Regions from separate parts of the Homo sapiens genome. Here all the other regions are linked to region 1. Evidence: fine-mapped expression QTL. A gene starts in region 1. Each other region holds a variant in brackets. All regions are shown on one strand. Distances are from middle to middle.

The links. PIP is the estimated chance that this variant, and not a neighbour inherited with it, causes the effect.
Region 2: its variant is fine-mapped to the expression of EML6 in whole blood (TOPMed, PIP 0.98).
Region 3: its variant is fine-mapped to the expression of EML6 in whole blood (TOPMed, PIP 0.91).
Region 4: its variant is fine-mapped to the expression of EML6 in esophagus mucosa (GTEx, PIP 0.94).

Annotation. Positions count from the first base shown.
Region 1 is chr2:54,719,277-54,727,382 of GRCh38, forward strand. EML6 (EMAP like 6) reads left to right here and starts at 4,386. Exons shown (of 42, transcript NM_001039753.4): 1 at 4,386-4,501; 2 at 5,273-5,982. The coding sequence starts at 5,786. RefSeq lists an enhancer at 3,919-4,138 and silencers at 4,279-4,768, 5,440-5,589.
Region 2 is chr2:54,753,641-54,761,746 of GRCh38, forward strand. The region is part of intron 2 of EML6 (EMAP like 6); the gene reads left to right. Among named protein-coding and RNA genes, the nearest start is that of EML6-AS1, 6.6 kb to the left of the region's middle. RefSeq lists an enhancer at 2,072-2,141. The variant TC/T (reference allele first, on the strand shown) is at 3,871.
Region 3 is chr2:54,783,033-54,791,138 of GRCh38, forward strand. The region is part of intron 2 of EML6 (EMAP like 6); the gene reads left to right. Among named protein-coding and RNA genes, the nearest start is that of EML6-AS1, 36 kb to the left of the region's middle. The variant A/G (reference allele first, on the strand shown) is at 4,855.
Region 4 is chr2:54,959,815-54,967,920 of GRCh38, forward strand. EML6 (EMAP like 6) reads left to right here. Exons shown (of 42, transcript NM_001039753.4): 35 at 406-520; 36 at 2,709-2,897; 37 at 4,172-4,344; 38 at 4,757-4,919; 39 at 7,186-7,289. Among named protein-coding and RNA genes, the nearest start is that of RTN4, 87 kb to the right of the region's middle. RefSeq lists an enhancer at 7,679-8,106. The variant G/C (reference allele first, on the strand shown) is at 3,315.

The DNA of each region.
Region 1 (8,106 bases):
TGCTCAGTTTGGATAGGGGCAGCTATTTCTAGATCATGTATCTATTCTGATATATTTTATATAAGTTATTGTTTACATCCTTCCCACTTTATCTAGGAATGAACTGATCTTCTCAGAGCTAAAATATGGTGGCTGACTACTGTTTCCCCCCCTCCCCACTTTTCTGTAGCCTAATATTGGAAAAGAGTAGAGCAGGAAAATGGGTGAAATCTACTGGGACTAAGTACAGCCTCCACTAAGAGACAAGGTTTTGCTCTTGCTTAAGGTACTATGAAATGACCAGTTCCAGGACGTATCCCATGCAGCCAAAGATATATCTCACACCTATGAATGTTGGATTATTCCTTTGACTCTGCATAGTACAACCATCATTCAACCATCTCCCTGATGATGGCAGGTCCTGGTGAAACTATTTTTGCTGAAGACCTAAAGTAATATGTAGGATCTTCTCTAACGTATGCCCCTTCTTCACCTCAGCCTCTAAAAATGTATACTTACATTTTACTTTTCCAAATTGGAGCATTTTTTGTGAGAATTTTCATGAGTTTTTCAACTTATCTTCTGTCCTTACTACTGTTTGTTGAATCTTTTTCCCTCTTATTATTTAGGAAACTTCAGGAAGTAAATTCTGAGACTTTGCTTTACTCAAGTATTACTTTCTCATCGTTTAATAATAAATGGATCTATGTCTTGGGTTGGGAGGTATGGGAGTAGTGGTTAATAACACTGGTTCTGTAGTTGGACAGACCTAAATTTGATTCTGGTTCTGCCACTTATTGAATAATCTTGGTTAAATTACTTATTTTCTGGGTCTCAGTTTCCTCACATTAAAATGAAGTTATCTACTCATAGGGTTGTTGTAAGGATTTAGAGAGATAAGGGATGTAAAGTGCCATTTATTTTTTTCCCACAGTTTAAGAATCCTCTATTTTTAGTTAGGTACATGGTTGCCCAGAATAAAAACTAGTTCCTAAATCTCCTTGCAGCTAGGTATGCCTACATAACTAAGTTCAGACCAATAGCATATAAACAGAAAAGACTTGGGGTAGCTTTTTCTTTTTTATTTTGAGATCTCACTCTGTTGCCCAGGCTATAGTCTAATGGCGTGGTAACAGCTCACTGCAGCCTCAATCTCCTGGGCTTAAGCAATTCCTTCCACCTCAGCCTCCTGAGTAGCTGGGACTACAGGCCTGTGCCACTACACCCAGCTATTTTTGTAGTTTTTGTAGAGAAGGAGTGTCACCAAAGCCCAGCCTGGTCTAGTACTCCTGGGCTCAAGCAGTCCTCCCGCCTTGGCCTCCCAAAGTGTTGGGATTACAGGTGTGAGGCACTGTGCCTGGCCTAGGGTAGCTTTTGAGCATCTTCCTTTTAAAGGCAGCCAGGATGTGCCCCATGACCCTTCTCTTCTTTGAAATGTACTTGAAATGTACGTTTGATGGCTAGTACTACATCTTGGACCATGAGGTCTAGGGACAGCAGAGCAGAATGCTGGCATGCTGCCAGTAGCCTGAGTACTCAAGGATTCCTTTAAGCAGAGCCATCATTCTAGGCCTGTACTACCTCCAGGTTTTTGTGAGAAATAAAATTCTATCAAGTTTAAATCATGGCTATTTTGGGTTTCATTTACAGGTGAACTTACTCTACCATCTAAACAATTTCTTTCATCATTCTTAGCATTTAAGAGCAGCGTCTGGAGTCAGACTGCCTGAGTTCAAATCCAGGCTTTGTCACTATTTTGTGCATTCCTGGGCAAGTTACTTAAACTTTCCTTACCTTCATTTCTTCATCTGTAAAATGAGGAAATAACAGTAACTACTTCATAGGATTATTACTGGGGTGAAGATCAAATTATCTGATACACGTAAAGCACCATTTATAGTGCCTGGAACATAGTAACTGCTATTCATTACAACAACATAATGTTATTATATTATGAGTTTTACTCATGCTTTTTAATACTGCTTATTTCCAAAGGACACTACCAGTCTTATTTGACACTTTCAAGTAGAGGTTACTATCTACTGCCATATAGTAATAATTAACATTTATCTAATGCTTTACAAATTAACTTTTCACGTATGTATTACTTTGTTTCATTCTTACAATTATCCTGTGGGGTGAGTACTGCTATACTTTATTAAATGAGGAGAGTAAAGATCAGAGGATTTAGTGATTTGCCTAAGGTTACAATTGTAAGTGGCTGACTCAGACTTACTCCTCCAACTCATTTAACAGTCTGGTACAGCATGGGGGTCATTAGTTATACTAAAGATAATTTAGGAAATGAATATGTTCCATCCATTTCTATTTAAGAGACTTCTTTTCAATACATTTGTACATTTTCTCTGGAAAGTGTCTCTTCCTTTCTAGACCACTGCCACTATCTCTAACGCAGCCTCAAGCACTACCCCAGACTTCTAATACCTCATGCTTTGATTACTGCTTTCATTGCTATTCCCTTATTTTTATTCAAAAAATCAATGACTCCATTATTTTAAGGATACAGCGCAAACCCCTATGCTGAGCTCCATCTACAATCTAACCTTTCATGTGTCCTCTTGATCTTATATGAATTCTCCCTTGCACCAAACTGGGTATTCTCTTTAGTGTTCTCTAAATCCACTTTTCTGCATCTACACTTTTGTTTATTCCCTAAACGCATGTAGAACGCTCTTTCAATTTATCTTTACTTATCTCAATTCTATCTATATTTCCTAGTTCCTCCATGAAACTTTTCCTGATGTATTTTATCTGGAAAAACTCTTCCTCTTCTGAATTCTTATATAGAACTTACTGGCCAGGCACAGTGGCTCATGCCTGTAATCCCAGCAATTTGGGAAGCCGAGGCGGGCAGAACACCTGAGGTCGGGAGTTGGAGACCAGCCTGGCCAACAGGGCGAAACCCTGTCTCTACTAAAAATACAAAAATTAGCTGGGCGTGGTGGTGCGTATCTGTAATCCCAGCTACACAGGAGGCTGAGGCAGGATAATCGTTTGAACCCAGGAGGCGGAGGTTGCAGTGAGCCAAGATCACGATATTCTAGCCTGGGCAACGGCCTGTTTTGTCTCAAAACAAAACAAAACAAAAAGAACAACAAAAACTTACTGTCTTTATATAATTCATTTGGCACTGTTTTATGGCACGACATCATTGATCAACTATATTTTTGCTTCTATCTCAAACCTTTCTCAGGCCGTGTTTTTGTTTTTGGCAGTGTTCTTGTTGCCTAGCACAGTGCCATCTCACTTATTTGTTGATTCTGTTTCCTTAAAAACAAAGATGAGACCAATTCAAATCCTCATTACTGCGGGCAGCAACAAATCATCCAAACTCTGGCACTTCCAGTTCTTTCGAGCTTTCCTACCAGGTCGGAGGGTTGTCTTAAAACTTGAGGGAGATGAACTGAGTAAGCGATTACACTGAAAGCATGGGAGGGAAAGGACGTTCCAAACGTCCAATCCATCATCCTTTTGCAGCCTCTTAGTCACTGGGATTTTGAAATCTCTTTCCAAAGACTAGCTATGGCCCTAAATTGGAAATAGGCTACTTGAGAACACAGTGGATTCATAGTTCATCTCGGGCAGTTTTAGGAGAAATGCCACCAGCTTCTGCGTTTGAAGGCCAAGGTTAGCTGTTCATGGCGTGAGCACCTTCCTGCTTCCAACCTCCGGTTATCTGTAAATACCCAAGTCCTCTAATTTAGGACGCAGGTCATGGGAAGACGCTGGTTCTTAGGGCAGAAGTGAGCTCACATTCCCAGCATTTTTCTTAAACTTGGCAGAACTGCACTTTAACAAATTAAAATCCATGTGAATGAAAAGGAAAACTTAAGTAGGAAACAAACTTAAGCTTGAGTCAGTTACAGCATGGTGAGGATGTCGGTTACAGCAACACTCAGAGACCGATGAAGGAGAAATTCCAGTGGTGGGCTGGGAGACCGTCTCCATTCCAACTCCACCGCTTTTCTCTACAGAGACCCACGCACGCCAGCTCCCGCCTCAGTCACAAGGGAACGCCCGCGTGGGCAGGCAATCGTCCTTGGTGAGCCGGGATCTCCTCACCCCGAGAGCCGCAGGCTCCGCTGACGCCGGTACAGGTCTCGCTGCGACTCCCTCTGGGCGCGCGGAATCCTGGGACTTGTGGTCCCTTCCGCGCGCTGTCCGCCCTAACCGGCGCAGAGAGGACTACACTTCCCAGGATGCGTCGGGGGAAGAGGCCACAGGGACAGGCAGAGGGAGGGGGCGGCCCCAGTCCTCCGGGGCGTCGCTGTTTCCAAGCGGCGAGATCTCGCCTAGTAACCGGCAGCTGAGGTTCACTAGCGCGGCGTTGTGGCCCCGCCCCCGGAGCCCCGGCTGGAGGAAGAACCTGTCTCCCGCGGCGCCCCAGTGACGAAGTCCATCCCCGGGTGCGGGAGGCGGGGAGGGGAGGGCAGGCAGAGGATTTCGCTCGCTCGCCCGCGCGGGATCCGGGACGCGCCGGTGGCGTCCGCTGGCAGCAGAGGTTAGAGGCAGAGAGCGCGCGGATGCTCCGCGGGCGAGGCTGGTTCGAGAGTGGGAGGAGTGCAGGGCGCCGCCAGGGCGGCAGTGCGCGCGGGCCGAACAGTCCTGAGGGCGGGCATCCCTCGCGCAGCGCGCCGACCCCCGGGACGTGTGCGTCTGTGGGGGGTTGCTGTCCCCCGGGTCCCTCGGGCGACCCCTCTCCACGCTGGGCTCAGGGCAGGACCCGGGATTCCGTGGGACCCGGTGTTTAGCGCAGAGGTTTCTGGGGAGAAGTACACGATTTTTGCCACTTGTTATTTGATTTCTCCTCGACCAGGAGCGTTTGTAGGTAGCGCACTCCCTCCGACTGCACTAGTGCCTCGTTTCTTCCGAGTAAGACAATCTTTCATGATGCGGATTGGAGTTGCTGATCAATGAGAGCTGCTAAGTTCTTTATGGCTTTCTCGGTGAAGAGAAGGTTCACGGAGGATATGATTATTAAACACACACATGAAAACTAATTGGAGCATCTAAAAAATGACCATTGCATATTCGCCCTCGCTTATTAGGGAAACAGCAAGCGTTCCTTCAAATCGCATCAGCAACTGCCAGGCAGCAGCATTTACGCATATTTCATATCATTAAGGAGATGGAACTGGAGAGAGAAAGCGGGAGTAGGGGACAATTTTTAAAAATACCCAACTTGGTTTAGTTTGGGGATAATTTTCTTGGATTGGGTGACTTATGCGAAAAATCTGTTTCTTTCTTCCTCGCTCTCGCTTCCTGGATATAGACTGTCAATTTCGGATCCAAAGACGGCGATGGCAGAGCTCACCCGGGTTGCCTGTCAAATCAAGGCTATCGCAGAATAAATCCCGCCGCCTGCCGCGAAGCCCCGGCGCACCGCAAACTTCAGTGAGCGAACTGGGTGATCGCTGTTGGGATATGCAGATTCCTGATGTAAAAGGCGGGGTGGCCCCCCCGAGAGCCTCTCCCGGGGGCCGGAGCCCGCAGGTGCAGTGAGGCGCGCGCGCCGGTGCCGGCGCCCCCAGAGCCGCCTTGCCCGGGTAGAGGGAGCCCGGCGCCCGGCGGGGTCTGGCGGCCGCACACCGGCGGCGGCGGCTTGTCTGCGGCGGCTGCAGCGGATGATGGTGGCGGCCGGCCCGCTGGGCTGTGCCTGTGTGTCGCCGCGGAAATCAGCGCCCTGCGCCGCGCGCTGAGCCCCTGCAGGTCCGCCGCAGCCCCAGCCTCGGCGAGGACGGCCCCGGCGCGCGGGGGGGCGGGGGGCGCGCGGGGTCGGCTTATCATGGCGGATCGGACGGCGCCCCGCTGCCAGCTCCGGCTGGAGTGGGTGTACGGGTACCGGGGTCACCAGTGCCGCAACAACCTGTACTACACGGCAGGCAAGGAGGTGGTCTACTTTGTGGCTGGGGTCGGGGTGGTTTACAACACCCGCGAGCACAGCCAAAAATTCTTCCTGGGACACAACGACGACATTATCAGGTAAGGGGGTGGCCAGGGGCGGCGGGGAGGGGTTGCGTGTGGAGGCTGGGAAGGTGGGAAGCGGTTGACCTGGGGTCGGATCCGGGAGCCCCGTGGAATAGAGGATTCTCTCTGGAGCCGCATGGAATTACTGAAGGGCTGCTGATTCTAGGGCCAGGGCAGAAACAGTGTGGGGAGTGTAGGTGAGGAGGGAGAGATGTCTTTTCGCTGTATCCCTCCGGAATTCTGGCTTTTAAATCTCCAAGGAGTTGAGTGTTCTGATGCTTTCTTGCTGTTCTTTCCTGCTACAAGTGGAAGGAGCCTGGGTAACTATGAAACACTTCTTCCTTCCCTAACCAGGTGCACGGTAGGACCAATAACCTGAAGTGTGGGCATCATCTTTGGGAGGCTCCTCAGTGGGTTTCTCAGTAAGCAAGAGGATTAAAAAAGATCTAAAAGAAATTTTACTACTGGTAATTTGGAATCTTCATCTCAGATGCTTTGGACCTGGGAAATTTCTGCAGTGGGTGGGGAGTTTGTTCTCTAATATTTCACTTGGCAGTGTTTTAATGCCCAAAGCATATTTATACACTAAATGGATGCTTCCACAGCATCATTGAGGTTATTAAAGGCTGGCAGCTGCTGGATCACAAAATCCTACCAGCCAGCCCACACAATGACCAACATCTGCTAGCGGATGGCCCAAGACTGACTGACAGGAGAGCTCATTTGGATGAATGGCCGTTTTAGGGGCCCTCCCGATTAAATGGAAAGGGGTTATATTGTGATTCTTGGCCCTATCCTCTCATCTTTGGACCAGACACATTTTCCTCCAGCCCTTGTCAGCTTTTATGTGAGCAAACAAGGTATGGGCCAGATGCTGTTCACAGGGAATCCTTTTCAGCCTTCAGCAGTTAAGGAAGATTTTCGTCATATGGGAGCCTCAGCCCACAGGGAAAATGACTTGCTGAGGATGGACTACAACTGACAGAGACCATATTTATACCTTCCAAACTTGTGTGTTTCATTGATGTAGAACAACTACCATTACATTCTCAGAATATTGCCACTTTTGCTCTAAGTTTGTCTTTCACAATGAAATAAATGAAGTGATGTCATGTCCATGCTCCTAATTTCTCAGTGCAGAGAATGATTTCAAAGATCAGCTTTTTTTTCCCTTCCTAATGATGTGCTTATATTCCAGAGCCTTTTTTTTTTCTGAGACCTAAAGTTGAAAAATTGTTACAGAAGGCAAGCACTTAATATTCAAACTACAGATTTTAAAAAATCTTGACTTTTTTTGAAGATGGGAGTGCTAATGTTCTCAAGATTTAGTGGAACTAGCATGTAAAACTTTTTTCATGTCACGTATGACACAAATAGCTTTTTTTCTTCCCTCCCTAACATGGTAGTTGTTGTGCTTGGGGCATCCTTACATAGTTTTGTTCTGCAGATTTTGCTTCTCTAATTGCTAGGCTGATTATGAAAGTTACAGGTGCAAATGATTAACAATGACTCATGAAAAGGTTAGATGTTTAAAAATTTAAACCCATTATGTTTTTGCTCTCTCTGTCTTAATGCAGTGCTTTCCATTACAGCATCAAAATAAGATGTAGTCCTTTGGGTGAAGGGAGAGAGTGGCAATTAAACAGAAAATTCTCTGTGGTTAAATAATATTAATGTGACAGTTCACTGAACTACTTTGTGGATTTGAACTCCTAATCCTAATTTTTTCTCTGATACAAGGAAAAAAACCAAATGCACTGTTGAAGCTGAAGGTGGGAAAAGGGTGGAGTTGCAGTAAACCGTTGTTATGACAAGCAGCCGGGCTAGTGGGATGTGATGAAATCTAGCTTGGGTGGTTAAGGAAACATTCAGATTTGAAGAAAAGGTGAATGAAGTGATGTGTATAACTGGGTTTGCAGGGAGCCTTAACTGATGAAGGGAAAAAGAGACAGTTAGCATCTGATCTATTCATTAAGCTACTTTAGTGACATAGTAGTAAGCCTGATTTCAGAGGAAGGACTGTATTCATAATTCTCCACAATATTTGGTTGGGTCAGAGTATGTATAGGTGAGCAGAGCAGAGCAGAGTTCCTTAACATCCAAATATGTCTTTGTACACAAGAATAAAATTAAGTTCAA
Region 2 (8,106 bases), 34 kb after region 1:
CCAGTAAGAATGCAGTCCTGAGTTTTTTTTTTTTTTTTTTTGAGAGACTGGGTCTGATTCTGTGGCTCAAACTGGAGTGCAGTGGTACAGTCATAGCTCACTGCAGCCTCGAACTCCAGGCCTCAAGCTCAAGTGATTCTCTGGCCTCAGCCTCCCGAGTAGTTGGGACTACAGGTGCACATCACCATGTCTGGCTAATTAAAAAAATTTTTTTGGCTGGGCGCGATGGCTCACACCTGTAATCCCAGCACTTTGGGAGACCAAGGCGGGTGGATCACGAGGTCAGGAGTTCGAGACCAGCCTGACCAACATGGTGACTCCCTGTCTCTACTAAAAATAGAAAAATTAGCCGGGTGTGGCAGCCTGCACCTGTAGTCCCAGTTACTCGGGAGGCTGAGGCAGGAGAATTGCTTGAACCCAGGAGGCGGAGGTTGCAGTGAGTCGAGATCACACCACTGCATTCCAGTCTGGGAGACAGAGCGAGACTCCGTCTCAAAAAAAAAAATTTTTTTTTTTTTTAGAGACAGAATCTTGCTACGTTACCCAAGCTGGCCTCAAACTCCTGGCCTCAAGCAATCCTCCTGCCTCAGCCTCTTGAGTTAGCTGCGATTACAGGTGGGAGCCACTGCACCTGTCTTGAAAATCTGACCACTAGTCAGCCTTGAAAATCTTGATTTTCGTTCATTGAGACACATTTTGGACACCTGACTTTCAGAACTGTAAGTTAGTACATTTGTGTTGTTTGAAGCCACTAAGTTCATGGTAATTTCCTATTATGGCAGCAATAGGAAACTAGTACAAGCACCTTTTCATGTGCTTAGTGACCATTTTGATACCCTCTTTTGTGAAGTGCCTCTTCAGGTCTTTTTGACCATTTGAAATAACTGGGTTGCCTGTCTTTTTCTTATTGATATATATGAGTTATTTATATATACTGGATATGAGTACTTTGTCAATTCTATATTTCAAATATCTTCTCCCATTCTGTGGCTTGCATTTGTATTCTTTGATGATCAGACATTCTTTATTTAGTGAAGTCCAATTTATCAATCTTTATCAATCTTTTACTTTATGATTAGTGCTGTCTGGGTCCTGTTAATGAAATATTTCCCCAATTCAGGGTTATGTAAAGATTTTCCTATGTAATCTTCTCAAAACGGCACTGTCCAGTAGAACTTTCTGAAGTGCAGAAATGTTCTATGTTTGTACTGTCCAGTGGTAGCCCACTAGTCACATTTGGCTACTGGCCACTTAAAATGTGGTTAGTGAAAGCTAAATTTTAAATTTTATTAGATTTTAATTAATTCAAAATTAAATGTAGTTAGTCACATGTAGCTAGTGGTTACCACAATGGATACCACAGTTCCAGAAACTTTATTGATTTACCTTTAAAATTTAGGTCTGTGATCCAATGGAAATGATTTTATGAGATGGTCATGATTAGCAATTTGTTTTTTAAATACAGATATACAGTTAACCCAGATCTATTATTGAAAAGATCATTTTTTAACCCATTGAACTAGTGGCAACCTTGTCATAAATCAGGCAGCCCTAATAAGTCTGTTTCTGGATTCCATTCTGATCCATTAGTCTTCATCCTTGCACTGACGCCACGCTGTTTTAATTACTGCAGTTTGAACTCTGAGAATATAACCTCTCTGACTTTGTGGTACTTCTTCAGAGTTGTCTTGAGTATTCTGCGTCCTTTGTATTTCTGTATCAGTTTTAGAATTGATCTGTCAATTTCCATTAAAAACCTGCTGATATTTTGATTGAGATTATATTGATTGTATAAATCACTTTGGAGAGAATTGACATCTTTATAATATTGAGTCTTCCAATCCATGAAAATGATATATCCCTCTACTTTGTTCTCTTAGTAATGGTTTATAATTTTCTGGAGGAAGTCTTATCCATCTTTTGATGTTCATCTCTACGTATTTGATGGGTTTTGATGCTATTGCAGATGGTATACTTTCAATGTTCATTTTCTAATTATTTTTGCTAGTATATAGAAATATAATTTTTTAGTTTTTTCGAGACAGGGTTTGGCTCTGTTACTCAGACTGGAGTGCAGTGGTGTGATCTCAGCTCACTGCACCCTCCACCTCCCAGGCTCAAGCGATCCTCCCACCTCAGCCTCTGAGTAGCTGGGACTACAGGTGCAGGCAACCACGCCTGGCTAATTTTTCTATTTTTAGTAGAGACGGAGTTTCATCATGTTGCCCAGGGTGGTTCTGCTTAGGTTTTTAACCTCTTAACCGCTGTTTTCTGCTTGGCTAAGAAAGCTCTTCCTTCTTGTATGTACTGGTTAGGAATCGGCAAATACCTTAAGGGGAAATTGTATGCAGAGGGTTGGACTTTCCTCTCTGCCATACCATTTTTAATTTGGATCTTGGCCCTCTTCCTTAAGTTTAGGCTGCCTTGGAAGCCCTGAATTCTAAGTTTTGTTTCTCTCATTCAGTGAGAATGCCGTGAGCGATAGGTGGCAGTTTCTGCTTACCCTCTGGGCTCTGCACTGCAAATTGGTAAATGCCCCAAGGAGGCAGAGTGGGTGAAATTTAGGGCTTACTTTAATGTTCAGGGCATTGCTCTTCTGTCAGGATCCCTGCCCCTAAAATTCCTCCTGCTTTGGTTTGTTCATCAGTGTCTTCAATCGACTGTGCTCTTTAATTTTATCTAGCTTTTATAGAAGTTCTCAATGGAAAGGTTGGTAGAATAAAATTCACTTTGTCCAACACAGAGTGGATGTCTAAATGTTAACATTTTAATGGATATTCATTCTGTTTCCTTTAATGTGCTTATGTTTTTATGTCTGTGAGCATGCTGTTTATACAAGTTTGGGTTTTGGTCCTGATTTTATATTGTCATACACAGCAGTTTCTTGAACCATTTCTCTTGTATTTGGGCAGTAGGGTGTTTCTTTTATTTTCCTTTTTAAAAAAATCTTTTTTTAAGTTTATATTTTCCTTTTTATAAATGATGTTCTCAGGAGCATTTTTTTCTACAAAAAGCCTTTTTTTTGATTTGGGGTTATTTTCTTAAAAGGTAGGATTTCTAATTTATTTTTGTTGTGGTTTTCTCTGATACTCTGGGTCATTATTCCTGGCATACTGAAATTTAACAATAATGTGGCTTTGTTTGGGTCTTCCATCCATTGATCTTGCCTTTTTTGGGCCTTTCAACCTACAAACTCCTGAGTCTCAGTTCTGGAATGTTTTCTTGCCTTCCTTTCCATTCTCTTTGCTCTTTCTTCTTCAAAGCTTTTTGGTAGTTTTGAGACCTCCTGGATCTGTAATTGTAATCCTATTTTCCTTATTATTATTGTTTTCTATTTTCTGGTAGATTTTTCTATTTTGTCATTCAAATCGGTTGAATTTTTATTTTTATATTTTATATTTTAAAATGCTTTTTAAAAATTTACTGAATTTTTCTTTTTTATACCTTCTTGTTTCAATATATTGCCATATTTTTTCTTTTTTCTGAGTATATTAATTATGTCCCTCCCTTATGTCTCCTTCCTTTTCTCTGTCACCTCAGCATTCCCTTTTTCTCCTGTATATTTGTATTGGTCTTTAACTTTTAGGTTCAAGGCTTTCATCAGATGTTGGGCAGGCTTTGGCTCTCTTTGTATTTAAGAGCAAGACCCCTGAAAGCAAATTGGGAGCTCTATATGAGGGGCAGTGTTGATGAGTGGTTTCACCATAGGGTGTTAAGGTGGTGCACCGCCTTTGCAATGGAGGATGCTGTAATACAATGTCAGGATGGAGGGGCATTTTCTCTTGTGTTGGTCAGTTTCCCCAGAAAGGAACCTCCAATCTCTTGCCTGGGGGTGACCGTGGGGTATGCAGTATACCTGGTGGCAAGTGT[TC/T]CAGGAGTAAAATGGAGAGAGGTTTTATGGTTCACAAGGCCGCCGACTCACTTAACTTCCTGTATGAGCTTTCCTCAGCTGGGCAGCCCCAGAGAGTAAATCTCCAGAGTTCTGCTGGGTGAGAGGAGGATTCTGGTGGACTCACTGTTCTTTACACAAGCTCTCAACTAGTCCTCCTACTTTCACCCCCTCCCTCCACTCCAGCCTTCAGGATATGTATCTGCAAGGCCCTGAGCCTTTCCAGGTTTCCGGCTGTGAGCTGGCTGCTTCTTTCTGACTTCCCCCTTCTTCCTCCCACCCTCGCCCTGGTAGGCTTAGATTTCTTAGGGTTCTAAAATCAGTCACCACTTACTCATTTGCTTTCCAGCTCCTTTTTTTTTTTTTTTCTTCAAGGTTTCTTTTGCATACTTTATCCTTTCTTCTTGTTCTCTTTGTCTTTGTGGGCCTGTGTCTTTTAAAATAACTCCCTATCTTTTCAATTTGGCAAGAAGCATAGATAAATGCTTTAAAACTGAAAGTCTTGCATTGGATTTTGAATGCCAGTCACCGTAATTTTCATTTCTATGAGTTTTATTTGACTTTCACTTTTCTTCTGTTCTCGTATGCATTATTCTTACCATGTGATATCTACACCTTCATCTTTTTATTGATTTTAAATAGATTTAAAATCTTTCCAGCTGTTCTATTGTTTTCAAGTCCTGAAGGGAGAGGGGAGTGGGTGGAAAGAAGGGATGCTAATTGTCTTGCTTGCTGTGTCTCCTGAGTCTTCCTTACAGTGACTTGTTTTCTTTGTCCAGTGTAATACTATTTCTGGTGGGAGTCCTGTATGTCCTGGTTGTGGAGACATCCCTACAGAGTAGGTTTTGCCTTGCTTCTGATGGCCCAGAATGTGCTCTTATAGTTTCTCTTATTTCTGGACCTCTATACGTGTGGTTTCAGAAATGTTCTATTTTCTCATCTTTGCTTCACTGTCTCTTACTAATCTCTCAGATCTCTGTTTAGAAGTGATTTTCTCTGGGACGGTTTTCCCAGTCCCCCATTCCCTGTATTGTCCCCTAGTATATTATACTTCCTCCAACGTAGTACTTATTACCCTGTAGTATATCATCCATTTGTTTGTCTCTCTCTTCCTTGTGACTGATTCTGGAAGACAGGATCATGTTATCTTGTTCACTGTTAAATATCTAGTGCCTACCAAAGTACCTGGCCCAAACCAGGTGTCAGTAAATATTTTATAAAAGAATATGATGCTATATCTTGTTTTAAGAGGCTTTGCAGGGATGGGTTACAGATTGGTCTGAGAGCATTGTTTTTTTAATCCCAGTTTTGCTACATTCCAGGTGACACTCCTTCATAGAGCAATGTAGGGTAATGCAGGGGTGCTCTGCAAACATAAAATATGGGTGGTTCATAAGTTGCCTTTTTGAGCTATAGATTTTCTTCCTGTTTTCATCACTTCCACATATAGTACATAATGGATCACACACTTGAAAACAAAAAATAGGGATGGAGTGCTTGGCACTCAGCACACGACCCAGTATTCTTGTGTGGCTCCCTCTTAGACCCAGTGAAGCAGCCTCCATTAGGTGGATGTTTTCAATTCCATTTTCCATTTGTGAAATGTGTGATTATGAAACAGCTGTGTAACAGTCTGTTGTGTCTAGCATGTCTTCTTTTCAGGTAGTAGGAAATGACAAGTTCATACTAGATGAATAATAATATGCATATCTGATAATTAGGCCCACAGTTTACAGTGGCTTTGACTGGTATTTCATGTAGCTATCTTCAAAACTTGAGTTTAGGAATACTGTCCAAAGAATTTTTTTTATAGCTAATTGAATGAGTAACCTTGGTTTTCTGGAGTATTTTATGGTAATACTAGAAAGAATAGTGGTGGTAACTATTATAAGATCATGGGGGAAGTGCTAAAATGAGTCACTTATTTTGGAAATAGCAATAATATTATTTGCTAATATTTATTGAATGCTGACTAAACGCATAGTAACTTTATTCATTTAAGGAGCTTTTAAAGGTTTTATAGAGTTTTTAAAAGTCATAAATTCAGACATAAATTAGCAATGGATGCCAAATCTGGGGGAGAGAGAAAAACTTTAAAAACTCTAAAAACTTTACATGTACCAACTCATTTAAATCTAAAGAAAAGTTGGATTTATACCAACACATCTTCATCACCAAGCTAGCATGTGAATGCTCAGGAGAGAGCATGCAGAATCTGCTCAAAATGGAGACATTTTAACTATATCCCAATGTTAGGCTGTGCTAAGGTGATCCAAGAGTGAAGTTCGAGGTTGGACAAAATTAGATGTAATTAATAGTTGAGGAAACTTCCTTCCCTCCATATATATATATATAAAATCTTTGTTTACATATAATATATATTTATATATATTTTAATGATTAAGTGTAGGTGAGAAATAAGATAACTTGCTCTAGATATCAGCAGGATCATTATACACAGCAGGATCAAGACTCCGGCTCCGATTCTGGGCCATTACTCTGATGCATTAAGAATGTTAGTAATTTAAATAGCCTAACTTCCAGTTTTTCTCAGTTTCCACTATTTTGTAGTCAAATTGATCTTGGTCTTAGATTTATTTAGTGTTTGACTCGATCCATATTTTTAATCATTGAAAATTAATTTTTAACTACTTAAGTAATACATGAATAAGTTTTCTTTTTTTTTTTTTAATTTTAGAACATTCCAAATGAAGCTTTCATTTCCTGTCCTGGTCTCCCTCCATGCTCCCCAGATATTCACTACTGCTATGAGTTTGGTATATATTTTTCAGATCTTTATATTCACGTACTACCCAAGAACATAACAGAGTATTGCTTTATGCATGTGCTTGATTTCTTTACATAAATTCCCCTATTGACAGACTTCTAGGTTCTTTTGCTTTTCAAACAGTGTTTCAGTGAATCCTTGCACACATGGGAGAGTGGCCCTCTAGGGAGATATCTAGAGGTGGACTTGGTTAGTCACAGGTATGCCCATTTTCAGTTTCAATATAGCCTAGAATTGCAGTACCTAGAGGCAGCAGGCTTGCAGAGTACCTGTTTCCCTACCATCTGGCCGGTATATGACACTATCAAATTCAATTTGTTTTGCCAAATGTAATTTTATCTGGGTTTTCTTTCTTATATGAAGAAGTAAGTTTCTATCTTTCCCTTATACAAACAAACCTTGACAGAGAATCACTGCTTTTGTCCTGGAATTCGGAAGATTTCAAAGATGGGAGGTGTACATGAGATCCATTCTCTCTCCCCATTGCTTTGAAGTTGAGGGAGCATTTTTTTTTTTTTTTTTTTTTTTACTAGAAAAAGAATCTGGGACAGACTGAAAGATGGAAGTTACTCTGTGTCTGGGAAATACAAACCTCCTGAATCTAGAAGCATGAGGCTTAGTATGATGAATGGTGACCAATAATGTTTTTATTAATCTGGGAAGTACTGAGTTTGGTAATCAGTATCTTTGAGGTTTATGCTAGTGAAGTTAATCCCAAGGCATTTGAGAAACTAGATTTCAGCTTCTCTGCTTTATGGTTTTAATTCCACTTTATTCTTAGTGGTAGTGCAGCCAAATGATAATAACTCTCATCATTGTTGAGAAATTGTTTTCCATATGGTTATTTCATCTGAGAATATGATTTTAAACAGACTACCAAAGTCATAGTACTCCCAGTTTGTGGAACGGACTTGTTTAATGTTATAAACTTGAATTTTGCAGTTTTGTGAACCAAAAAATATGATAATAAACAATACGCTTTGTTTCTTTTTTATTAATGCTTAACTGAAAAAAAAGCATAAATGAAGGTGCTTATTTTTATTAATTGGGGAAATACCAGGGATTAAACAAAGCTTAGTCCTTCAGTGTTTATAATTTCTGGTAAGAAAGTTGAATAAGGTATTTCCCCTTTTCAGAGCAGCTTACTAGTTTTATCTGAGGTATATAATATGTGAATGTAATTAAATTATCAAATTTGGTTGATCATTTAAAAAATCACAAAGGCATAAAAGTGGACATTTATGAATCACATTGCAATTTGGTCAAAAGTGATTCTTTCACTAACATAAATCATAAACTCTGTGGATATAGCTTGACTTTAATTTGTCTGAATTATGATATGGAAATGTTTAAAATGGTCAAAAATAGTTGAGGTACCTATGCTTTAAGTTTAAAATATAAGTCTATTTAAACTTATTTTGGAATCATT
Region 3 (8,106 bases), 64 kb after region 1:
TCTGTCCTTGTGGAATATTCTACGTGGTAGGGAAGTTAATATAGGTATGTATGCGTGCATATATTATAGTCGATCAGTAAATAATAACTAATAAAAGTTACATCATACTGTATTACATCCTACATAGAAAATGCTTTATTACAATGCCTGGGAAATGTCATTTACTGACCTCATGTCTTATCTCATAAAATAAGAAATTATTCATATTCCATGGCAATTGATGTATATGCATATTTCTTTTTTATTGTTCTGGATATAACTATGTAATGAAACACTCTGTTATATTGCAAGTAAAAATCAAGCTTAAGTCTAGATTTTTAATTTATGCTTTAAAATTTTCCCTTTAGCTAGTGTTTCAAATAACATTCAGAACATCACAAATTGTTTTCTGTAATACCATTAGGTCAGTTTGTACACAGCCTTTAAAAGTTCTTTTCATATCTGGAACAAAGCTGTAGTTGATTTTAGATTTAAGGAAGTGAAATAGAGACATATACCTTTTCTCAATCTAATTTAAAAAATTTAGTCAAATGTGGATATCTGGTGTGGCAAGGAAAGAATTGTCCGTGTAATTAGCTGTAGTTTATGCTGAATTGCGGCTAGTTTGAAACGACTGTGATGATTATATTCACTGAAATGTTTTTGAGGCTTGATTTTTTAAAAAGATTTTGAGAAGACAAGATTTTTAAAAATGAGATTAAAATAATTCTTACTTTCACCACCCTAAAAATTGACTACAGTATTTTCTTTTTGTATAATACTATAAATATGTATCATTGATATACTTGTAATGAGACTGTACATGCTATTTTGTATTCTATTTTCTCTCATGTTAATATAGGTAAATCCACATTGCAAGATTTTAAATATCTGCACATTAGTGTATTATTATGTTCATGTTCCATAATTTATTGAACTGTTTCAATTTTTTTTTGAGATAAGGTCTTGTGGTATTGCCCAGGCTGGAGTACAGTCGTGATCATAGTTCATGGTAGCCTCGAAATCCAGGGCTCAAGTGAATATCCTGCCTTAGCTTCCTAAGTAGCTAGGACTACAGGCATGTGCTACTCATGCCTAATTATTTATTTTTTTTGTAGAGATGGGGATCTTGCTATGTTGCCCAGGCTGGTCTCAAACTCTTGGGCTCAAATGGTCCTCCTACCTCAGCCTCCCAAAGTGTTGGGATTATAGGCATGAGCCACTGCACCTGGCCTGAACTGTTCTTTAATGTTAGATCTTTATGAAGTTGTAAATTTTTAAATCAATTAGCAAGCAACTAACTATATTGTGCCTATCACTTTTTTGCTATATTAGAATAAATATTTATGAGTAGAATTACCAGGTAAGAGTATAAATACTAATAAACCTTTTGCAACTTGTTACCATATGTATTTTCAAAAGTGTTATAAGACTTTACCGTACCACTAATAATGAATTTGTATAGCCTGCTTTGCCAATATTGGGTGTTACACATCTGACCCTCAAATAAAATGGGACTTAGGGATGCTACCCCCACCCCCTTGCGGTGAAAATCCAAGTAGAACTTTCTGACTCCCCAAAACTTAACTACTAATAGCATGCTGTTGACAAGAAGCCTTACCAATAACAGAAACAGTCCATTAACACATATTTTCTATGTTATATGTATTATATACTGTATTCTTTTTTTTTAAATTTATTTTAAGTTCCAGGATACATGTGCAGGTTTGTTACATAGGTAAATGTGTGCACCTATCAACCCATCATCGAGGTATTAAGCCCCACATGCTATTCTTAAAGGAAGCTAGAGAAAACAAATTGTTAAGAAAATCATAAGGAAGAGAAAAATACCCTTACAGTACTGTATTGTATTTGTCAATACCATAAGAGTACATCATCTGTTTACAGGATGAATTGTCTGTCTGACATAGCAGGCAACTGCAGCTGCAGACCTCAGTCTATGGCAAATCTCAAGCAATTCACCATTTTCTTGTAATATGATGACTTTTCTGTGCTTCTTTGGGAACACCTCCAGCCTAGATCACTAGTGGCACTTCACAGGGGGTCCCACAGTGTTATTTCAGGTTTATAGTATTGCACTAAACATGATGAAAAATACGAGAGAACTTCAAGAGATTTCCACCCCCCCACACACACACTTTTTTTTTTTTTTTTTTTTTTTAAGACGGAGTCTCACTATGTTGCCCAGACTGGAGTGCAGTGGCGCAATCTCGGCTCACCACAACGTCTGCCACCCAGGTTCAAGTGATTCTCGTGCCTCAGCCTCTCGAGCAGCTGGGATTACAGGTGTGAGCCACCACGCCTGGCTTATTTTTGTATTTTTAGTAGAGACGGGGTTTCACCATGTTGCCAGGCTGGTCTTGAACTCCGGACCTCAAGTGATCCTCCCACCTCGGCCTCCCAGAGTTACTGCCTCAGCCACCCAAAGGTGTGAGCCACTGTGCCTGGCCCCCATGGCCTTTTAAGGGATACTCACAACACTTAAGTTCACCACAATAGCAAAGTACTACAGAGGTACAGTGTGCACTATAGTTAATTTTATGCAGTTATGATTTAATACTGCATCTTTATATGTGTTTACATTTATCTCGACTGTGAATGATTCCATGTACTGTCTGTGTGTAAGTTTTCATAAGTTTTAATGTTTTATTATACATTTGTATAAATTTTATGGTAGCAAATGATAAAATAGACCAGTGTTTACATATACTTTTTGCATTCATGACATATCTCTTTCTTAATTTTTTTCAGTATTTCTAGGCTACACGGTTCATTTTTGAGTTTTTTCAAATTGTCACAAATCTCCAAAAAAATGTTTTAGTGTATTTACTGGGAAAATTTGAGTATAAGTGAACCAGCACATTTCAAGCTTGTGTCGTCTAAGGATCAACTGTATATATAAATATATATATATATATTTGTATGTGTGTGTGTGTGCAATTTAGGGCATGGTTATGGCCAGGAGGAAGTGGAGTGGCTACCCAGGGTGTTGGGGTAAAGGAGCTAGAGGTGGAGCGGCCACCCAGGGTGTTGGGGTAAAGGAGCTAGCTGAGAGCACCCATTGTAGGGAGCCTTCTGTTTTTTCTGGTGTAATCAATTTGAGAAGTCCCACCGGGGCAGTAGAGGAGGAGATGGCTGGGCCCTGTGGCTCCTATGCTTATTCCCTGAGTGTCTCTTTTCCCTGGAAGTTTTCTCTCTGCCCTGTCTTCAAGGAGGGTCATTCCCTAGGTCTCTAGTCCCAGCCCTTTTTTGCTACTCTTATCTTAAACACCTTAGGGTAGCAGAAAGTACCCTGGACTGAGGTGTTACAATTCTTGACAGCAAACAATCTAGGTATTTACATAAGCAGAAAGTCACTTATTGAAGGGTATTGGGACATTCACAGGATCTCTAGGAGAGCCAAAGACCACACAACGGAGAACAGTGCTCAGCCACAGTGGGGTCCCCTCCCCTGCTCAAGTGCTGCTACCGCACCCGCTACCTACCCCACCAGTGGGTTGTGGTGAAGGAAGAATCTCCTGTACCCTTTCAGGGGACATAGCGGTATAGGGAGGTGGACAGTTTACACAAGGTAGAACCCACAACACACATTCCTCTCCATTATACTGAGTTTCTGGCAAATATTATAGGACTCCATTGAGTCCAGATTTCAACAAAGAAATGGAGCAAACAATTAGAATAATTCCCAGATGCTCGAGTTTCCATGTTGAATCCAGAGGCTCTGTTAAGACAGCTGGTCTCTAAAGCCCAGGTTAAAGTAATGTTCTCCCCTTTCCTCGGAATTCATTCCCACACAGGTTCCCCAAATATATACTGGACAAGTGAAACTTGTTAAACATATACAAGTTTGTAAGTTTGCAAAATAGTGCCATTCTTTTGGTGTGTAAGCCTTTTTCTCTCGGGCTTGACTCTTTGTTTGACTCCCAGTGCAGTTGAAATCTGCCTCTGATTATGGATCTGGGAAGAGTGGGGCAGGGAGAGGTTAGAACATGAGAAGACTTAGGTTCTTTTTGAAAGATGAGTGCCTCAGGTGTGCCCACTGAGGTCTCCAGGCCAGGCAGGCACTGCCTAAGTAGGTTCAGCAGGGCTTCGGGGAGTTGTGCAGTGTGCGTTGGTGGGAGAGAAAGCGGGTAGGGGGCTGGTTCAGGGGTTGGTAGTTCTCGAAGTGACCAAATGCTCTCATTTTCCCATCAATATCGTTTCATAGAAATACCTGACAAGGCTCCCATGGTCTGAGCCTTGTCAATGAGATGGGTGAGGGTTGGGGGGGGGTCTTTGTGTGAACCCAGATGTCAGTTTTTAATGAGAATTTCAAGTATTTATATTTTAAAAGTAAACCAGAGGAAGATTGAGTTATGAAAAGATTGAATTGTAGTCATACAGACCTAGGTCTGAATCTTGGCTCTGCCACTTACCAGCTGTGTGGCCTGGGCAAGTTCCTTAACCTCCGTGAGCCGCAGTATGTTTGTCTGTAAAGAGAGATAAGTTTGTTTATCCTATTGGATTGTTCTTGAGCATTAAATGAGATAATGTGTAAAGTACCGCATAGTAATTGATCGATAAATAGTAGCTAATGTCACTGAATGATTAATAAATGCTTATGGAACTGAAGCAATCTTTAGCAATAAAGTGGAGCATTTTGCTCATGGGGAACTTGGGAGTCGTGTCTGGAGATGTCTCAGTCTGGGGTACTTCCTTAAGATCTCAAATCAGATTTTATAGGAGGTTTGTTTCACATGTTTAAGGTAGCCTGTGTGTTTAGGTGGAATTTGTTCAAGTGTCCATTGTCATAAATTTGTTTAATATCATTGCTCCTTCTGCATCAATTTTTAGGCCAGACCTAAGTTATTTGAA[A/G]CCCGGTTGTACACACCCCGTCCCCCGAGGCCTAGTTGAAACTTCCCTCACCTGTGCGGTGGTTTCTGCTGTAGCCTGCCTGTTCCTCATCTCGCAGACCCAAAAACCCAGCACACCCCACAGCTGTTGACCATGATGAAACCTGATGGTCAACATCAGAGTCAGGTAAATTAGACCCCCTCCCTTCGCACGTGTTTTCTTTAAACTAGCCAACCACTGCCCTGTGGAAAGCCTACGGCAGAACACCCGTGGACCTTAATAAAGGCTTAGGTCGCCAGGTTCTCGCTCACTCGCTCGCTAGCTGCCCACTTACTGGTTGAGCACATAGGTTCCAGATGGCTCCCGCTTCCTGTTGGCCTGCAAGGCGGGCTGCCCTCTTCTCTCTGGCATCTGTAAGTAACACCGGCTTCTGTTATTTCATGTGTTTTGTTGTGCCGGCTCCTGTGTCTCACTTGAACCTAACTCCCTTCCTGGTCAGGGCTGGACCCAGGTGAGAGAAGATCTACAAGGGTGGCTGCCACTATAACCGAGTTTTCTGTGAGAGGGGCATCTGGTCATGTGTCCACGCTTAGGATTAGGCGTCCAGCTGGGAAAAGAGGTATTCTGTGAGAAACACTATAAACATCTGGGGCCGCCCCCCGCCCCAGCAGGTCTAGAATCGATAGCTACTCTCCAGAGAGAGACCTCAAGACCAAGTTAGAGGAAAATTGAAGCTTAGCAAAATGATCAAACAAGATTTCGCCAAAATAACTGGTTATTTGGCTGGTTATATTAACTTGTCTAATAGAATGGCTTATCAGTCATTTTATTGGAAATTCCTGTTGTTTTGGTGTGAAACGGTGGTGAACACTAATTGGCTTTTTGAAAAATAGGGCCAAACTCTTCAGAACATATATTTTAGGAATCAAAACATTATTTCTCCTGAAGTTTTTATTGACTTTATTGTTTAAAATACATGTTTCATTTCCATTGGCTAGATGAAAAATGGAAAGTCATTTCTGACTGGTTGGAGTTCCATAGACTTAACGCTGAATCCAATGGTTAGTAACATTGGCTTTCTATTCCCTTCTCCATCCGCCCCACCCCCTTTGCCACTTGCTTACATTTCTTAATAAAATGAGGCAGGTTTGCTATCTTTTTGCTTTTTATTCTTTCTTATATCCATCATCTGTTATCCTTTCTCTTTCATGTGTTCTGTCTCTGCTTAATTCCTTCAGCACTTTGGTTTTATTCCAATAAATAGCTTCTGGAAGATACTTGCGTAAACAAACAAAAACAGCAAAAACAATGAAACATTTAATTTTTAGCAAGTGTTATGGTGACCTTTAGAAAGAATGTGCTTTCCGGCCGGGCGCGGTGGCTCACGCTTGTAATCCCAGCACTTTGGGAGGCCAAGGCGGGCGGATCACGAGGTCAGGAGATCGAGACCATCCTGGCTAACACGGTGAAACCCCGTCTCTACTAAAAATACAAAAAAATTAGCCGGGCGTGATGGCGGGCGCCTGTAGTCCCAGCTACTCGGGAGGCTGAGGCAGGAGAATGGCGTGAACCCGGGAGGCGGAGCTTGCAGTGAGCCGAGATTACGCCACTGCACTCCCGCCTGGGCCACAGAGCGAGACTTCGTCTCAAAAAAAAAAAAAAAAAAAAAAAAAAAAAAAAAAAGAAAAAGAATGTGCTTTCCAAAGTAGACATGGGTGGGACGTAACTGGCCCACCTGATGTTGTCTTCCGTACTTGTATTGGTTTTCTTCTCTTCTTCTGTCATGTGCCAGATACTGTATTGGATGCTTTACAAACTCTACCTTATTTAATTATATCCTCATGATATCCAGAAGGGAGTTAATATTCTCATCTTGCAGATGAGCAAACTAAGGCTCAGACATGGTCCTAATAGGTAGAATAGAAGGAATTTGAATCCAGAGTTAACTCCAGCACACATGCTGCTTTCCTTACCAGGGCTTGCTTCTACCTAAATAGTAAGTACAGGGAGAGCTTTATGACACAGAATATCTACAAATACTGATTGACTTCTCTGGCTCTTGGACCCAAATGAGAATGAGCTTCATGGTATGTGTGTGTGGTGGGGATTCATCTTATTTTTGCAATGCGTATATGTGTTGTATTTTTAAATGATGAAAAATGCACAGGTAACCTGTACAAGAGGGAGATCTAAGAATAGTCAGCATTAAGTAAATATTTGTTCAAAGAATGTCTTCCGATGACATTGCATAATTTCAGTTCATATATCTGAAAACTTAGTAATGACTAGTGATTTTTATAAGAGAGATTGAATAGTGGGCACTTATTTCTAATGAGCCAATTGAAAAGCAAATTAGATAACTTGCTGTGTGTATGGTGACAATTCATCCACTTTCTATTTTCTCTCCCACTGTCTTCCCACATATGTATATATTGTTTTCATTGACATATTAGTGAGTTAACTAGGTTAATTTTTATTGTGCCCAGAAAATACTTAGGTAATTTCAGATTCATTGTGGAGCGGGGAAGCACCCTAACTCTGTGAGCTGTACTCTGAATTGCAGAGTAAGTTTACAACTAGTGGGAAATATAAACATTGACAATATTTGCACTCTTAATCTGTGTGTACAACACCATACTCTATTGTCACCACCCATTTCACGGCTGGAGGGTCCATTCTTGTATCATTCAGATACCAGCATTTGGAAGCCAAGGACCTACATTTTAATAGACTTAGAAGCAAGAAACTGGTTATATTTTTGACGTACTTATCACCAGGCTTTCCCACAGTTGATCATTCACATCCATATTAGTATCAGGACCCTATTGTGTATAGAGGACATTGGTAACTTAATTTTCCTTTTTTTTTTTTTTTTTTTGAGACGGAGTTACGCTCTGTCGCCCAGGCTGGAGTGCAGTGGCGCGATCTTGGCTCACTGCAAGCTCCGCCTCCCAGGTTCACACCATTCTCCTGCCTCAGCCTCCCGAGTAGCTGGGACTACAGGCGCCTGCCACCGCGCCCAGCTAATTTTTTGTATTTTTAGTAGAGACGGGGTTTCACCATGTTAGCCAGGATGGTCTCGATCTCCTGACCTCGTGATCCGCCCGCCTCGGCCTCCCAAAGTGCTGGAATTACAGGCGTGAGCCACCGCGCCCGGCCGGTAACTTAATTTTCAAACTTTGAAGCAAACAGTCACAGGCCTAAGTTATTGCATTATCACCATTCAGCATTTCTTCTGAATAAATATTACAAAAAATATAATAGGTGTGAAGA
Region 4 (8,106 bases), 240 kb after region 1:
CACAGTGACTTTGCTGTTGATAAAACGTTATTCTTAGTAGCTCTGTGGAGGAATGGAGGAAGGAGGAGAAGAGGGGAGATGCAGAAGCAAAGCCTGAAGACAGGAGAAACATTTCTGTGTTCTAATCTAATAAAAAGTCTGAATTTCCAAATTACGTTTTCTTTCCTCCCAAGATAGTAGCATTTGAAGGCATTTTAGGAAATCTGCAAGCTCAGGAGGTTGGGATTGCTTAGCACCAGGGCCTAAGAGAGAGGCTGCCTGGAGGGTCTGGACCCTGGAGGGTCTTTCCTTCTGGGCCCCAACTGGCCAGAACCCTGATGACTGGGAAAGAGGGGAGAGGGCCGGAGGGGGTAGTGGGTCTTAGGATGAGGGTTAACAGCCTGAGTCCCTTTCAATCTTTTTTAGGACCAAAGAAGGAGGTGCTGTAAAATTGTGGGACCAGGAGATGAAGCGCTGCCGGGCCTTTCAGCTGGAGACCGGGCAGCTGGTGGAGTGTGTGCGCTCCGTGTGCCGTGGAAAAGTGAGCACAGCCAGCTCCCCTGGGGGCTGGGCCAGGGAAGGGGGAAGTGTAGGTACCCTCCCAGCCGGCACTTTCTCTGGGCTGGTTTGTTTACTCCTTGAAACAAGGCCTCAATACATGAATTGTGCTGTAGTGGGAAGCAGCTTAAGAGAGTCAGACTCCCCCAGGAAGAACCAGCTGGGTGACCTTGGGTGTGTTCCTTAATGTTTTTGTGTCCAGCACACAGGTTTGTCATGAGGTTTTTGTGAGGGTCACATATTTATACATGACAGTGCCTTTCATCTTACCTGGCATATAGTCCCATTCAGGAGATGTTAGCTACTAGTATTATAGATGATATCCTCATAAGCTCAGAGATACTAAATAGTTTGCCCATGCCCTAAGCTATAGGGCCAGTAAGGAGGAGGGTAAGGGCCACCAAACTGTCTGACTCAAAGCCATTGGTTTCCAACTCATATTTGGGTAGCGTATCAAAAACAACTGTCGGGTTTTAAAGAATATGGATGTCCGGGCACCCACCTGGAGCTGGTGAATCAGAATCTCAGGAGTGGGACCTGGACCTGTATGTTTCCTTCTATTTCCTTCTATTTAAATTCCCCCAGGAGATTTGATGCACTTAAAAGCCAATCTCCAAACTTCTATTGAATACCTTGTGTTTGTTTTTAAATATCAGTCTAAGAATTTGCTTTCTAGATGCTGTCCATGAAAAAGGCAAACTGGATATGGAGTACCACATGATTCAAAACTGGGGATTTTGTTCTTAAATAGCTAAGTGATGCCCACCTGGAAGGGTAGTTATGGGAGATGAAGGCAGGACTATGCCTGGAGCCTGGAAGTTATCAGGAAGTAGTTTTTTTTTTTTTTTTTTTGAGACGGAGTCTTGCTCTGTTGCCCAGGGGGAGTACTGTGGCATGATCTCAACTCACTGCAACCTATACCTCTTGGGTTCGAGCGATTCTCCTGCCTCAGCCTCCCAAGTAGCTGGGATTACAGGTGCCCACCACCATGCCCAGCTAATTTTTTGTATTTTTAGTAGAGATGGGGTTTTCCCATGTTGGCCAGGCTGTTCTCAAAACTCCTGACCTCAGGTGATCCACCCACCACGGCCTCCCAAAGTGCTGGGATTACAGGCGTGAGCCATCACACCTGGCCAGGAAGCAGATTTTTGTTCAGTGGAAGGAAGAACTTACTAAGAGCTTGAGCTGTCCAAGAACAGGAGAATTGGCTGCTTTGCTCTGCAGTCACTGGAATATTCTGGCAGAGGCTGGGTGATGGAGGAGTCTGTGCTGAAGCTCTCACCTGAGGTAGCTGATGGAGAAAGGGCAAAGTAAGAGGGTGGAGAAGAGCAATTAAGAATGGACAGTTTGTTGTTAAAAACAAAACACTGGCCAGGCATGGTGGCTCACACCTGTAATCCCAGCACTCTGGGAGGCCAAGAGGCAGGCACATCACTTGAGGTCAGGAGTTCGAGACCACCTGGCCAATATGGTAAAACCCCATCTCTACTAAAAATACAAAAATTAGCCAGATGTGGTGGCGGGCACCTGTAGTCCTAGCTACTGGGGAGGCTGAGGCAGGAGAATCGCTTGAACCCAGGAGGCAGAGGTTGCAGTGAGCCAAGATGTCACCACTGCACTCCAGCCTGGGTGACAGAGTGAGACCCTGCCTCAAAAAACAAACAAAAACAACACTTCTCACCCCTTCTTATTTTAATATTAACACTGCAAAGGCATTTTCTCAAGTTACTTGTTTTTTTTTTTTTTTTAAAGACAGGGTCTCACTGTGTCACCCAGGCTGGAGTGCAGTGGTACCATCATCATAGCTCACTGCAACCTCAAATTCCTGGGCTCAAGCAATCCCCAAGTTTTTCTAATAATAGTGGTGTTTTAAATTTTTTTAACTGTGGCCAAATAGACATAAAATTGACCATTTTGACCATTTGTAAATATACAATTCAGTGGCATTAGGTGCATTCACATGTTGTGCAGCCATCACCACCATCCACAGAACTTTTCTTGCAAAACTGTAACTGTACCCACTGAACACTGACTCCCCTGTCCACCACCCCCATTCACCGGCAGTCATCATTCTACTTTCTGTCTCCATGAATTTGTCTACTCTAGATACCTCATATGAGTGCAGTCATACAGTATTTGTCCTTTTTCTAATAGTGTTTCAATTACAACAGGGAAAAATCTTAGTGGGAACCAAAGACGGAGAAATAATTGAAGTTGGTGAAAAAAATGCTGCTTCTAACATCCTGATTGATGGTCACATGGAAGGGGAGATCTGGGGCCTGGCCACTCACCCTTCCAAGGACCTCTTCATCTCTGCCAGCAACGATGGCACAGCCCGGATCTGGGACCTGGCTGACAAGGTGAGGCCGACTCTGCCCAAACTCAGATGCCCACGAGTGGGCTGCGCGGCAGTGGGAGCTGAGCGAGGAGAGGCCCAGCCAGCGTCATGGCAGAGACGGGGATGGGGCCAGGTAGGAGATCGAGTTAGAAAACCTAACGATAAAAGAAGCCCCACTCACCACACCCCGTCTAAACAATATAATTGAGAAGGATTATTCTGTTGTCATGAAAGAACCCACAAAACTAAAAATATAGAGACAAATCATGTTTTCCCTGGATGAGAAGACTAAAAATGATTTAAAATGTGAAATGTTCTGAAATGGGCCTAATGTATTTCTGTCAAAATCCCAACAAGGTTTCTCTTAGAGCTTGGGAAGGCAATGTTAAAGTTCATCTGGAGTAAAACTGTGAAATAGCAAGGAGTGGCTGGGCGGAGC[G/C]GGGTGGGTGGGAGGGAACAAAGAGTTCTTGCCGATCCTCATGGCCTTATCCAGTGTTAAAACAAGTACTCAAGTTCAACTAATTAAAATACTTGGTTTCATTTTAAAATGGCTGGTAAGTGTTTGTTGTATTTTTAGTGTCAGAGTCACAGAATAGTCAGGTAAAAGCTTGAGTATGGTTGCTAGACTTTTAAGTTAGTTTCTGTAATTATTTATTAAACATTATTAGCAACAGCTGTCACTACTTGACTAACTACATAACACCAGCTGCTTCATGGACATGATCAGTGCCTACAATAACCTTGCAAAACCCTTATTAACATCGCTATTAGTAAAACTCTAAAAACTGAGATGTAATTTACCCAAACACACCCAGCTAGTAAGTGACAGGGCCAGGATTCAGAATTTGAACTAGCAGAGGCAGAAGCTCACACTCTTTCCCCTAAAGAAGAGGTTGGCAATCTACAGTTAAAGGCCAGATCGGGCCTGTGGCCTGTTTCTACAAGTCCAGCTGCCCTCATTTATTCAGGTACTGAGGCTGTCTTGTGCTACAGTGGCAAAGGTGAGTAGTTGCGACAGAGACTATGGCCCACAGAGTCTAAAGTGGGTGCTACCTAATCATTTACAGAAAAAGCTGGGCAGCCTGTGCCCTAAAACTTGTTGTCCCCCAAGCTGCTCTAATCAAGACATACAGCTCTGCTCAGTTATTCAGGGACATTTACTCTAAGAAGCAAGAGATTTGGTGGCCTGCAGTGGCTGCGAGGGCAGCCTGACTTCTCTGGCCTGGTGCAGAATGTCTCCTGGAGACCAGCTGAGGGGGCCAAGAGCTCAGGTGACTTTCCTTTGCATCAATGTAGAAGCTGTTAAACAAGGTGAGCTTGGGCCATGCGGCCAGGTGTGCAGCCTACAGCCCTGATGGGGAGATGGTGGCCATTGGCATGAAGAATGGAGAGTTTGTCATCTTGTTGGTGAACAGCCTGAAAGTTTGGGGGAAAAAACGAGACCGGAAATCTGCTATCCAAGATATCAGGTACCTAAGTGGGTGGTCTGGGCATGGAGGAGAAAGGCAAGCATTCTGCTTACCAGTGGTTCCCATTCCAGCCACGGCTGGAATAAAGAACTCAGTTGTGAGAGGGTCACTTTCAACAAGCCACCTATGAAAGAATACCTTCTCCCACTCTCACTCTTAGACAAGTCTTTGCTAATTTCCATAAAAGTGTGGTTAAAATTACTTGTAAATGTCATTCTACATATTTCCCGGGGATTCGATCCAGATAAATTGTTGAATTCCGTAGAATGCCAGGAGAGGCTGACCACATGTGAGTCACAAGGTGGCTCTCATTGCCTTTAGGCCTGGAAGGCCTGTCACAGACCAGCCTTCGTGCCTGACCAGCCCCAAACAGCCCTCCTCATGGACTCTGCTCTCGGATTGCTTTTTCTAGAATCAGCCCAGACAACCGATTCTTAGCCGTTGGTTCTTCTGAACACACAGTTGACTTCTATGACCTCACTCAGGGCACAAATCTGAACCGCATTGGCTACTGCAAAGATATCCCAAGCTTTGTCATTCAGATGGATTTTTCTGCGGATGGCAAATACATTCAGGTATGCTTGGGGTTTACTTATATCTGGGGCAACCAATAATAACAGCAGTAATAACAATGGCCTATATTAATCGAGTCCTTACTGTGTACCAGGCAATGTGCTAACTCACTCTTCACCAGAACTCCTTAAGTAGTTACTTTTTCCATATTTTATAAATGTAGAAACAGAGGCTTAGAGAATTTAAGAACGTGGAGGAAATAGAATTTAAAATAATAAAGAGTAAGAAAAACAGGAAACACAAGCCCTAATCATCTTTAATCTGCCCCTCACCACCTCCTCTTCAGAGTTTCCTGATTTCTAGTTTTCTGGGGCTACACCTAAGCCTTGTGCCGCTTCTGGTATTTATTCATGTCTTTCCCAACTCTACTGGGTAGAATGGCCCCTCCATACGTGGGCCCTGGACTCCAGCCAGTGGGCCTGGAGTGAAAGCTCATCCCTGGGTCCCAGGGGAACTGACCGGTGGAAGGGAGGGAGAGGGTTCCACTGCTGGGACTGATCCCTAAAAACAGAATGATTTCTCTAGCACTCAAGAAATCTGCGTTTGTGAGCTGGCCTGGAGCTGGATATTCACTGTAAAAGGAGAGAGGATGTATTTATTCATTCAACTATTTGCTGAACCGGGCACTATGCTAGACTTTTAGATGGACAAAATGAGACTGGTCCCGTAACCACCCAAGGGGTTCACCTTGCCGGCTGCCTAGACAGAGCCCATTTCTCAAGACAGGGGAATTGCAATAGAGAAAGAGTAATTCACGCAGAGCTGGCTGTGCGGGAGACCGGAGTTTTATTATTACTCAAATTGGTCTCCCTGAGCATTCCGGAAGCAGAGTTGTTAAGGATAATTTGGTGGGTGGGGGGAAGCCAGTGAACCAGGAGTGCTAATTGGTCAGAGATGAAATCATAGGGAGTTGAAGCTGTCTTCCTGCACTAAGTCACTTCCTGGGTGGGGGCCACAAGATCAGATGAGCCAGTGTATTGATCTGGGTGGGGCCAGCTGATCCATCAAGTGCACGGTCTGCAAAATATCTCAAGCGCTGAATTTAGGAGCAGTTTGAGGGTCAGAATCTTGTAGCCTCCAGCTACATGACTCCTAAACCATAATTTCTAATCTTTTGGCTAATGTTAATCCTACAAAGGCAATCTGGTCCCCAGGCAAGAAGGAGGTCTGCTTTGGGAAAGGGCTGCTACCATCTTTGTTTAAACCATAAACTATAAACTTTCTCCCAAAGTTAGTTCAGCCTACATCCAGGAATGAACAAGGACAGCATGGAGGTTAGAAACAAGATGGAGCCAGTTAAGTTAGATCTCTTTCACTGTCTCAATCATAATTTTGCAAAGGCAGTTTCAGTCCCTGCTTCCTGGAGCTTGCTCTATAACAGAGAAGACAAGCACTAAACAGACAATCACAAAATATAAATATAATTACAAATTGTGATTATGTGCCAAGAAGGAAAAGTACAGCATTCCGGGGAGCATGTAACAAGGTGCTGAATTTAGATGCACTTCCTCTCAGCAAGTGATATTTAAGCTGAGGTCTGCAGGGTGTGTAGGTGTTAGCCAACAGAGAGGTGGGAACATTGTTCCAGGCCATCTGCATGAAAGCCCTGAGGCAGGAAAGAGCTCAGCTTCCCAGCTCATTCCAGGAGAAGCACTGCAGGGAGAGAGGAAGCTGAACAGGAAGGGCAGCAGCCATTCACTGCAAATGTCTTGATGGTAGGAAAAATGGTCTGTTTCCTTTAGAAGACTCCCAGAGCACCGAGGTTCAGGTTCTAGACACCTCAGAGATCATCTGTGTCACCCACTGTCCATGAGAAACCTGCCTTACCTCTGTACCAAAGGTTCTTGGTTTCCTGTGAACTGGGATTCCTGTGTATCAGAAACACCTGGCGGCTTTGTTACAGCAGAGACTGCTGGGCCCCACCCTTTCGGTGTCTGTCTGGGTAGGTTTGGGGTGGGGCCCAAAAATTTGCATTTCTAACACATTTCTAGATGCAGCTGACGTTGCTGGTCGGGAACCACACTCAGAGAACCGCTATCTTAGGACTCTGGAAAATAGCGAGAAAATGGATGAGAAGAAAGATGGGAAAATGGCCTGCTGTTGTTGTCATGGGCTGGCCATAGGCTTTGCAGCCTGGAGCTGAGCTTGGGTTTGGAGAAAAGCCCTAGGGATGCAGAGGCTGGGCAGTGTTCTGGGAAACTGTGCCCAAAGGGAGTCTGTGGGACTGAGAAAGAACGTTGATGAACATGGCTTCCCTTCTACCTACAGGTGTCAACAGGTGCCTATAAGCGCCAGGTGCATGAGGTCCCCCTGGGGAAGCAGGTAACTGAAGCCGTGGTCATTGAGAAGATCACCTGGGCCTCCTGGACAAGGTGACTGACTGGAAGAAAAAACTTGAGGAAAAGGTCACAAGGGAGTCTCTTGTCTCACTCAGGCTCAGCCTCCAAGTCTGTGCAGGATCTGAAGAAGCTGAGAAATGGAGCTGTCTTTTCTTTTGGGGGTGAGGGTGGGAGGCTTCTTGGCTAGTCTAGTTTAGGTCACTGGCTTTGATCTGACCTAGGTTTTTGAAATGCGAAGCCCCTCTTTTTGTGTAATTTCTTCTACAAGTCTCCAACCCCTTCCAGCAAGTTCAACAGGAAACCATCTCCCGTCTCTTGGCCAATCCTAGTGCACAGTGAGGCCTCCATTCGCTAGGGGAAGGGAGTGGGAGGGCCAGACCCCGGCTTAGCAGGATGAGAAACAATGGCTAATTCATGGGAAAAGAGACCATTTAGTCTGTGAGTTGAAAGGAACCCCTGCTGTTCTCCCCAACACACACATATTCAAGAGGACCACAGGGAACAGGGAGAGAATCAAAGATGGGGGTAACTTGTGTTTTTGGAGTGTAGGGAACTGAGGCAGAGGGGGAACAGTAAGAGCTGGCACAAATGTACAGAGGGGAAGGGGACAGATGCTTTCATGCCAGGAGAGCCACATGGCTGTACTGAATTACATAAAACAGCACCAGGGACCAATTTCATGGAATACAATTTTTCCAGAGACCAGGTAGGGGGTGGGGTTTCGGGATGAAACTGTTCCACCTCATAAGGAGCTTGCAACCTAGATCCCTCGCATGCTTAGTTCACAATAGGGTTCGCACTCCTATGAGACTCTAATGCTGCGGCAGATCTGACAGGAGGCGGAGTTCAG